3 linked regions of the Homo sapiens genome follow. The protein of the gene in region 3 purifies or fractionates together with the protein of the main gene of each other region. This does not show direct contact. Each region holds a gene or a part of one and is shown on either strand. Other genes may lie near its edges.

Evidence for each region.
Region 1: the proteins of ETFB (region 3) and ZMPSTE24 fractionate together in Homo sapiens (co-fractionation; one large-scale study listed by BioGRID). This does not show direct contact.
Region 2: the proteins of ETFB (region 3) and PDIA5 fractionate together in Homo sapiens (co-fractionation; one large-scale study listed by BioGRID). This does not show direct contact.

The regions. Positions count from the first base shown.
Region 1 is NC_000001.11:40,289,200-40,292,076, forward strand, and holds part of ZMPSTE24 (CAAX prenyl protease 1 homolog), read left to right. Parts: intron 1-1,654; coding exon 1,655-1,798; intron 1,799-2,877. UniProt on the Homo sapiens protein: Transmembrane metalloprotease whose catalytic activity is critical for processing lamin A/LMNA on the inner nuclear membrane and clearing clogged translocons on the endoplasmic reticulum.
Region 2 is NC_000003.12:123,073,389-123,077,043, reverse strand, and holds part of PDIA5 (protein disulfide-isomerase A5 precursor), read right to left. Parts: intron 1-3,655.
Region 3 is NC_000019.10:51,359,854-51,363,508, reverse strand, and holds part of ETFB (electron transfer flavoprotein subunit beta), read left to right. Parts: intron 1-3,655. UniProt on the Homo sapiens protein: Heterodimeric electron transfer flavoprotein that accepts electrons from several mitochondrial dehydrogenases, including acyl-CoA dehydrogenases, glutaryl-CoA and sarcosine dehydrogenase.

The sequences.
Region 1 (2,877 bases), on a different chromosome or scaffold from region 3:
CTTGCTTCATTTCCACTCTTATATCTACCACTTGTCCTTGATGATGAAGTGCTTCTGCGCATAGCAGTTTCCTGGCTAGGCAGATTAACAGATTAACATAGCACCCAGTTCAGAAGGGATAGTTCAGTTTGCAGGATCACAGTATCCCATGGCCAGGAATTCAGTCTGTAGTAGGGCCCAGTAGCAAACCAAAAGTTATTTTTCAAAAGGACAATGGTTACTTGACAAAAGTGGATGCATAGATTATAAGTGTAGGAGACTTCACTGAGTTTTCTGTTGGAGCTTGTCATATTGGATCCACTGAGTTATAAGGATGAGTGTCGAAGCTGCTTGTCCTGGGGCAGCTGGTGAGCCTTCTTATGCTCTAAGCCCCATTCTAAGCTGACAGCTTCTTGGGTCATCTCGTTTGGGTCAAATGGTTTGAAGCAACACACTTAAATAAGGTACATGTGGCCTCCAAGATCCTAATTTGCACAGAAAAAGAATGTTGTGTGTTCTCCAACCTTACTCCAAGAGGTTGTATTTTGGTATAGATTTTTTATTTTTTTCTCCTCTCATTTATTGATCAAGATGGATCTACTTTTCCCCCTGACCTTTCTAACTATCTGGTACAGCTCCAGTGGGCCTAGAGAGGATTCAAGGGAAGCCTGTTTCTTTGGAGCCTCCGCTTCAAAGTCAGGTGGGAGGCGTTGTATCTGATTACAGTGTTATAAAACAAGGCCAGAATCCATTCTAGCCCTTCACCCTTTTACAGAGAGAAAATATCCCATTGCTATTGACCACTTCAAACCCTCAATGATAGGAGCCTCAACTTAAGCTTGCCCTTATAGAAAATGATACAGTTTATACATTTGGGAACATTTTATTTTACTTTTGAAATAAAAGTGAAACTAAAAACTACTGGCGGGGCAGTATGGTTCATGCCTGTAATCCCAGCACTTTGGGAGGCCCAGGTGGGTGGATCATCTGAGGTCAGGAGATTGAGACCATCCTGGCTAACACAGTGAAACCCCGTCTCTTCTAAAAATACAAAAAATTAGCCGGGCATGGTGGGGGGCGCCTGTAGTCCCAGCTACTCGGGAGGCTGAGGCAGGGGAATGGCGTGAACATGGGAGGCGGAGCTTGCAGTGAGCCGAGATCGTGCCACTGAGCTCCACCCTGGGCGACAGAGTGAGATCTGTCTCAAAAAAAGCTACTTAAATAATTTGTTCTGTGATCACACTAATACCTTTCTTAAAATCACACTATGAATTTTTTTTTTTTTTTTTTTTTTTTTTTTGAGATGGAGTCTCACTCTGTTGCCCAGGCTGGAGTGCAGTGGCGCCATTTCAGCTCACTGCAAGCTCCGCCTCCCGGGTTCACGCCATTCTCCTGCCTCAGCCTCCCGAGTAGCTGGGACTACAGGCATCCGCCACCACGTCCGGCTAATTTTTTCTGCATTTTTAGTAGAGACGGGGTTTCACCATGTTAGCCAGGATGGTCTCAATCTCCTGACCTCGTGATCCACCCGCCTTGGCCTCCCAAAGTGCTGGGATTACAGGCGTGAGCCACCGCGCCCGGCCACACTGTGATTTCTTATACTTTATGGATGCTACTGATCCCATAGTGAAATCAGCTTGGTAATAACTTAGAAATTTCATGTCCTTCTTTCTAGATGAATTCTTTCCTGTGTTTTTTTTTATTTGCTGTATTAATTGGTCGAAAGGAGCTTTTTGCTGCATTTGGTTTTTATGATAGCCAACCCACTCTTATTGGACTATTGATCATCTTCCAGTTTATTTTTTCACCTTACAATGAGGTAATGTATGATCTTTAAAATTATCACACATATGCTCTTGCCTGCTTCAAATCTAGAGCTTTCAGGATAGTGAAAAAGGAAATAGAACAGTACAGTTTTAACAAATAGATGAAACAAAGTCTTTTAGTCCCCTGATTCACTGGTCAGTATGACAAAGTAGCAGAAAAATTCAAGCCCAAATAAATAAACGTTTGCATACTCTTAGGAAAGTATAAGTAGAAAACTAGACTTCAGTGGTGAACACCTAAAAGGACTCGGTAGATGGAGATTAACTATTGGAATGTTGTGTCCTAGGCCACATATTCACCAGTGCTTGGGTAAAAATCTTATGTGTATGAGGGGACAAAGCAAACACTAATTGGTACAGCTCAGTAAGGGAGGCTTAGTGACTGTTCCTCTGCTCCATGACCACCTGCCTCCATATAGCCTGAGGGATCCACCCAAACCCACAAAATCAAAATCGGGTATTTTGTGGTAAATGAAACTTAAGAACATTGCTCTGTGTTAGCTCATTAGGGGTATTCCGTGTGAGTGATAATACATAGGTTAATGTGAGACTATATAACAAACCTGACAATGGCATCATTTCATGATGTTTGGTAAGGCTTCCAAATTAAGCTAAGAAATAATATTGAAGATCTTGAGGTATCTCCATTCAGAAGAATTCTTTCTTGGGATAGATTGTAGAGTTAAGATGAGCTAAATGAATTATATTTTTCTATTATGTATGGTGGGGACACCAGGAAAGAAAAATGGAGGGGCATAGATCATATTCATATAGCATTGTCCACATAAACAAAAATAAATTTGGCAGAGAACTGAGATGTATTATCTTAAAACTCTTTTTTTTTTTTTTTTTTTAAGATGGAGTCTCGCTCTGTCTCCCAGGCTGGAGTGCAGGGGTGTCATCTTGGCTCACTGCAACCTCCGCCTCCCGGGTTCAAGCAATTCTCCTGCCTCAGCCTCCTGAATAGCTGGGACTACAGGCACCCATCACCACGCCCAGCTAATTTTTGTATTTTTACTAGAGACAGGGTTTCACCATGTTGGCCAGGTTGGTCTCGAACTCCTGACCTCAG
Region 2 (3,655 bases), on a different chromosome or scaffold from region 3:
TTTAAAAAGCCACACCTTACATTTGGGGCTACGCAGCACAGTGTCTCCCCTTTTTATTCCCCATGGCACAAATGTTGCTGTCAACAATGGACAATTCAGGGGCAGGGCAACTTATCTGAGAGCTTATGAAAACAGGTTTTCTTATCCTGAAATTGCAACTGCAGTGCATTTAGCCAGGACTTAAGTCCCTAAAGCTTTTAATGTTTTGGAAAACCTCTTCTTGAGCCAAGAGGGGTCTGGATCACCGCCAGCTTGGTGTGCCAGGCCTGTTAACGAGGAAGAACTGGTAGAGGGAACATTGAATTAGGCAGCAGGGAGGGAGGAAGAGCAGGTGAATTCCCACTCCGGAAATCAACTCTGCCTCCAAGCTCCGTTAACTGATAAGAAAATAACAACTCAGTGTTCATGACCCACGGTGTACATCCATGCTTTTACACACATGATCTCATTTCATCCTCTGAAGCTGAGAGTCTAAGCCACTGTTTCCACCCTTCAGGTCTCAACCCAGGAGTCTAGTCATAAAATCAGTGAGTTACAGTAGCATTTTTAAAAAATTACATTGACTAGAAAACATCAGTGAGTAGCACAGGTAGCAACACTATGCATTCAGTGAGCCCAGTGTGTACTGGGTTACACTGTAAAATGTATAACTGTTCTTGCAGGAGTTGAAAAATTGTCATAAACAATGAGTGTTTATAGGCAGAGGTGGTACTATCCCCACTTTAGAGATGTGAAAACTGAGGCTCAGAGAAGGGATTTGCCTCGGATTAAGCCTAAAACAGTAGAGCCAGGTCCCCGCCAGGACAGATCTGATGCTTTTCTCTTGGGCTGTCAATGTGAATAGTTCCCACAGACATCCCTGGAGCATCATCCACTCCCCGTTGCTCCACCCAGAATAATACCCGAGAGGCTGGCAAGTCTGCTGTCCCTTCCAATCCAGCTATTGAGCGTGACCTGCTGAAAAGAGCTACAATGACAACCTGATCCATCTTCCCTCTGCTACCAGCATGTCCACAAACCCCCAAATCCCTTCAGAGAAAAGCACATGCTCAGGCCAAGTGACACCAAGCAGACAATGGTGACACAGCTCCAATGTGAGCAGAACTTGTGCTACACACTCAATTGAGAGCACCCACCTCGGCTGGCAAAATACCACCAGCCATATAAGATTAACTTGGAAATGTGTCTAGTTTTGTAGCTTTACCGCAGAGCTCGGTATTCTGGGAATACAGATTCCTGGGCTTTATTCTTGAAGAAAAACATCTCCAGGGGCTGGGAGCCCAGGAATCCATTTTACACATATCTCCTTAAGGTGAAGAAACTCCATCACTGACCCATCTTTTAAAAACTCTCTCTCTGGACCCCATATCACTCCCCTCTCCACTCACAGCCAGAATTTTCCATCTCCCCTGCTCCTCCCATTCTCCTCCCTCCTTCCATTGCTCATCCCTCTGAAATCTGCCCTCCCCACAACCACCACAAAAAAGGCTCTTGGTGAAGGCTCAACAATGACCTCCTATAGATAAACCCTACAGGCACTTCCAGTTCTCATCTTGTTTGGCCTCTTGAACTGGATGCGACACTTGGTTTCCCTCCTACCTCTCTAGCAATCATTCCTTTCTTCTTTGTAAACCCTCCTCTCCCCATTCTTTCAATGTTGAAGTTCCACAGCTCACTCAGTCTACCCTCTCTTCCTACCCTATATGGTCCCCCAGCCAACTTCACCCACTCTCCTGAACAGCACCCCTAAATTAACATCTCCAGATCAGACCTCTCTTCTAAGCAACACATCTTTACGTCCTGCTCACTCAGCAGTTGAACTGGAGTCAAGTACAGTTCTAAAATGTTAAAAGCCTAATTCTCATACAAATAGGTATTGAGCATATTTCAAAGTTTTACTTAACTCGCTAATAAGAGACCCTAAAAAAGAGGATATAATCCTGATATAAGATTGCTACATTAGATACCAACAGGTTAATGTCCTTCAGGGCAATAATCTTTGTGCTTCTCTTCTTTACCAAACAGAAATAATTTGCATCCTACTTAACTTTACAAAGTATGGCCCATAAAAAATAATAAACAGAGTTACATCCCCTAGAACACAGCTGGTCCTTAGGTGGTTTCTTATACAATACTCCAGTATGATACTAAAATGTCACAAAATCATCTTTTATTTCCAAGTGTTATATAATTTTTTTCCACTGTAGTCTACGAATTTGGATGGAGAAAAATGACATCTTTATCTTCACTAACCTCTAACTGAAATTTAGCCTTTCCTGTATTATGAATGTATTTATAAATGTATAAATGCTTTCTACATTTATGAATGTAGATAACAAATTACAGTAGTAATTAGGGTAGCAGTGTCTGTGACTTTGCCACCAACAGAAATCATATTTTCTTATCACATTACAAGATATCCTGAAACACTATTTATGCTCATCACAACTTAAAATTATAGAAGTTATCAAGCTTGTACCTTTGATCTTTTTATATGATGCATTAATAAACATAAATATTATTTTATCACAACCTTGTTGTTATATTTTGATAACTGTATTTCAATAAAACTGCTTTCTTTGTAATTCTATGCATTTTACTTTATACATTTAAAAACATTATTCTAAGAAAGACCCAGAGGTTCTCAGAGAAGGCTTTCCTGACTCCTTGAATTAGGTTAGGGATCCCTGTTATACATTCTCTTACCACATTATATTAACACTTTCTCTTTCCAGCACTTACTACCTGAATTAAATAATTAATCAGTGGCTGTCCCACTAGGCCATGAGAGAAAGAGATGGTGTCTGTCTTATTTATGGTTATCCCCAATGCCTTAGCATGAGGCCTGGCTCATAAAAGATTCTCAAGGAAATATCCATTTGGGAAAAAAAAGAAGTATCTGTTGAATGAATGAACATCTGTGGCACATGTAGGATGCTGATGTTGGTCCACCTTCCTTTGAAATAGGGGCATGTACTAATACTCTGCCCAGGACCCAGTAAGACTAGACCCTGTGATGAGAACAAACCCACTCGTTCCTCAAGACCCTTCCCTACTTGGCCCAAACAACAGAGCTTTCCTACCAGGCCCACATCTGGGCTCAGATACTGGATCACCTTTATGTTTAAGCCCCAGTTTACAACCCTCAACCTTGATTTTCATCAACATCTTCCAACAAGGATTAAAGGACCTGCTCACGACTTCCAGAAATCTGCCTGCGCCAAGGGGTTGGAGGAACTGTAGGATTCTTTGCAGGGAATGGACACTCCACCCTTGCGCCCCCGCAACTCTAGTGAGCTGGAAACTCTGAAGCCAGACACAGGCCCACCATCACACCATCTAGGAATGGAATGTGCATCAGACTGGGGCCTCAGTATGACTTTGAGGAATAAAGGCTCTTTTAACCCCACACTCCATGAGTGTCTTCAACCCCCCAATGTAAGATCACAAAGCTAATTATTTAGAAGTGGTTGCAAACTGGTATGTGGAAAGAGGCCCTGCTGATGTAGGGTGGCAATAGGGGACAGTGAACTGGAGCTCCTTGGGGGAAGGATACAGTCAGCATGTACCTGGCTGGCCACCCCTGTCCAATGCCAAAGCCACCAGGGAGCAGCTGAAAAGCAAGTTTCAGGGACACTCCTGGAAAATGGCTGCC
Region 3 (3,655 bases):
TCCCTGTACTCCAGCCTGGGTGACAGAGCTAGACTCAGTCTCAAAATAATAATAATAATAATTTAGTGATTCTCCCTGGCATCGCCTCCTCCAGGAAGCCCCTGACCCTACACCCTCAGGTTGCCTTGGTATATCCCTGGGGGCTTCTGCAGTCCCTAGATTTGCTTCCATCAGCCCTCGCCAGACTGGATTGGGATCCTCTGTTTACCCCATGTTCCCCACTGCCCTACTCCATCATCCCCAGGCTGGTAGCTCCCTGCAGAGAGGGGCCATGTCTGATCCACCTCTGTTCCCAGAATCACGTGCTCACTCCCTGACCTCTTTCACCTCCTTTTCAAACATCACCTTCTCTGGGAGGACTTCCCTGCTTGCCTCCTTAAAATCACAGGCCCCAGGTCCCTGTGTTTTGCTGTGTTTTCCCCTATACTTAGCAACTAGAAAGGGAGAGGAAAGTATGTTTGCTAGAGATGAAAGTTCAAGGAGCCAACCTAACTGAGTGGAGGGAGTGACTCACATTCTCCATGAAGGAGGTGGGAGCAGGGGCACCCTCTGAGAGCCCAGCTTGTCCCCAGAGGGAAGCTGGTGTGGACACTTTGTAATCCACAGTGTTGTTTACTTATTGATTGCTCTGGTGTCTGTCGCCCCTTCTGGAATTTGAGCTCCAGGTGTGGGGGAGACAGTTTGATGTGGTCACTGCTTCCTGAGACAGTGGGTTCACTACTAGAATAGTGCAGACCTCAGACTCCAAGCCCAGCGCCTGCGTCCACTTCCTGCTGTGTGACCTTGAGGAAATTGCTTCACCACTCTAAGCCTCATTTTTCTACTCTGTACAATGGGGATGATGGTACTATCTACTTTATTGAGTTGTAATGAAAATTAAATAAGCCCTTGGAACAGTGCCTGGCACACAGTGGTTTGTTTTGTTTTATTTTTTGAGACGGAGTCTATCTCTGTTGCCCAGGCTGGAGTGCAGTGGCATGATCTCAGCTCACTGGAACCTCCACTTCCCAGGTTCAAGCAACTCTGCCTCAGCCTCCTGAGTAGCTGGGATTACACGTGTGAGCCACCACGCCTGGCTAATTTTTGTATTTTTAGTAGAAACGAGGTTTTGCTATGTTAGCCAGGCTGGTCTAGACCTCCTGACCTCAGGTAATCCACCCGCCTCAGCCTCCCAACGTGCTGGGATTACAGGTGTGAGCCACTGTGACCAGCTGCAATAAGTGTTTTTATTGGGAGTAGTAGTAATGGATGTTTAGTTAGTCATTTATTCAAAACATAACAAATGCTGTGCTCAGAGTGTATTCGTGTGTGTGTGTGTGTGTGTGTGTGTGTGTGTGTGTGTGTGTATGTGTGTCCGGCTGTGTGTATGTTTCTGGGTATGTGCGTGTATCTAACATTTTAATAGGTATTTGGCAACTCAGTAACACCCTGTCCTGTTCAGGGGCACATTTTACAGGAAGCTGATGAAGCTTAACCTTCAGGGCCTCTTTCAAGACCCCAGGAGAAAGGCTGGGCCTGGTGGCTCACGCCTGTAAACACACACTTTGGGAGGCTGAGGTGGGTGGATCACGAGGTCAGGAGTTCAAGACCATCCTAGCCAACAGAGTGAAACTCTGTCTCTACTAAAAATACAAAAATTAGCTGGGCATGGCGGCGCGTGCCCGTAGTCCCAGCTACTCGGGGGGCTGAGGCAGAAGAATCGCTTGAACCAGGGAGGCGGAGGTTGCAGTGAACCGAGATCGTGCCACTGCACTCCAGCCTGGGTGACAGAGGGAGACTCCGTCTCACAAAAAAAAAAAAAAAAAAAAAAACCCAGGAGAGGCTGGGCAATTTTGTATTCATTATCTGGGATTCATTTTCTTAGAGATGACCCCACAGGATAGAAACTCCAGGCCCAGAAAACGTGTTTCCATCTCGGGGCCCAACCCCGACCAGCCACACCCTCTCGTCTGGGAGCGCCTGGTGTTTCTTCAGGTTTTCCTCTTTGGGCTCCACGCACTTGCCCCTCCTGCTCTCAGCAAGGCCACCTTGTCTGACAGGGCACACGTGGGGCTCACATGTCACCTCAGGGACGAGTTCTCTGTCTGCCCCCCGCCGAGTTAGTGATCTGTCACTGGGGTGGCTCCCTGGCCTTGGCTGTCCTGCTTGCTGAGTGCCCTAGCACGTGCCCAGGGACTCGCTTGACAGAAAAGCCTAGAGGACAGAACCACACAAGTCCTTGAGCTGTGTCAGGGGTTCAGGAAGAGCTGTCGAAAATCACTTTATAAAATCCCTCTTGGGCCGGGCGTGGTGGCTCACACCTGTAATTCCAGCATTTTGGGAGGCCGAGGTGGGCGGATCACCTGAGGTCAGGAGTTCGAGACCAGCCTGGCCAACATGACGAAACCCCATCTCTACTAAAAATAAAAAAATTAGCCAGGCGTGGGCCGGGCGCGGTGGCCCACACGTGTAATCTCAGCACTTTGGGAGGCTGAGGCGGGTGGATCACAAGGTTAGGAGATTGAGACCATCCTGGCTAACACGGTGAGACCTTGTCTCTACTAAAAATACAAAAAATTAGCCAGGCGTGGTGGCAGGCGCCTGTAGTCCCAGCTACTGGGGAGGCTGAGGCAGGAGAATCGCTTGAACCCAGAAGGTGGAGTTTGCAGTGAGCCAAGATCATACTACTGCACCCCAGCCTGGGCAACAGAACAAGACTCTGTATCAAAAAGAAAGAGAAAGAGAGAGAGAGAGAGAGAGAGAAAGAGAGAAAGAAAAGAGAAGAGAAGAAAATCCCTCTTGCCTGCAGTGGACAACAAATAGGAAGACTGGCTCTCCTAACACCGTGGGCACACGTAGCCTCTTTCAGAGTCTCACAGTTCCCAAGACAGATTTGGGGTTAGACCCGTGGTCCTGCCACTTCCATGCTCAGTGGCCCTGGCCAAGGTACTTGGCCTCTCTGTGCCTCAGTTGCCTCATCTGTAAAATGAGAGGTAATGGCAGTAACCAACCTCACAGGCTACTAGGATGGTCAAACGAGTTAATGCATATAAAACCCTTGACTCGTTGTCTGCATGGGTCAGTGCTGCTTTTAAAAAAATTTTTTTTTTCTTTTCTTTTTTTTTTTTTGAGATAGAATCTGGTCTGTCACCCAGGCTGGAGTGCATTGATGTGATCCCTGCTCACTGCAACCTCCACCTCCCGGGTTCAAGTGATTCTCCTCCCTCAGCCTCCCAACTAGCTGGAATTACAGGCATGTGCTAAAACGCTCGACTAATTTTTGTATTTTTAGTAGAGATGGGGTTTTACCATGTTGGCCAGGCTGGTCTCGAACTCCTGACCACAAGTGATCCACCCACCTCAGCCCCACAAAGTGCTGGGATTACAGGTGTGAGCCGCCACGCCCAGCTTTGAGGCTGTTTTTGATATTGGTGGATATGTCGTCTCTTTAAGAGAAAGCCAGCACTTAATGCTGAATGATTTACCTCAATTATAAAACTTTTTTTTTTTCTTTTTGAGACAAGGTCTAGCTCTGTCACCCAGGCTAGAGTGGTACAGTCACAGCTCGCTGCAGCCTCGACCCTCCTGGGTTCAAGCCGTCCTCCCACCTCAGCCTCCTCAGTAGCTGGGACTACAGGTGCACGCCACCATGACCTGCTAATTTTGTTTTTTGGTA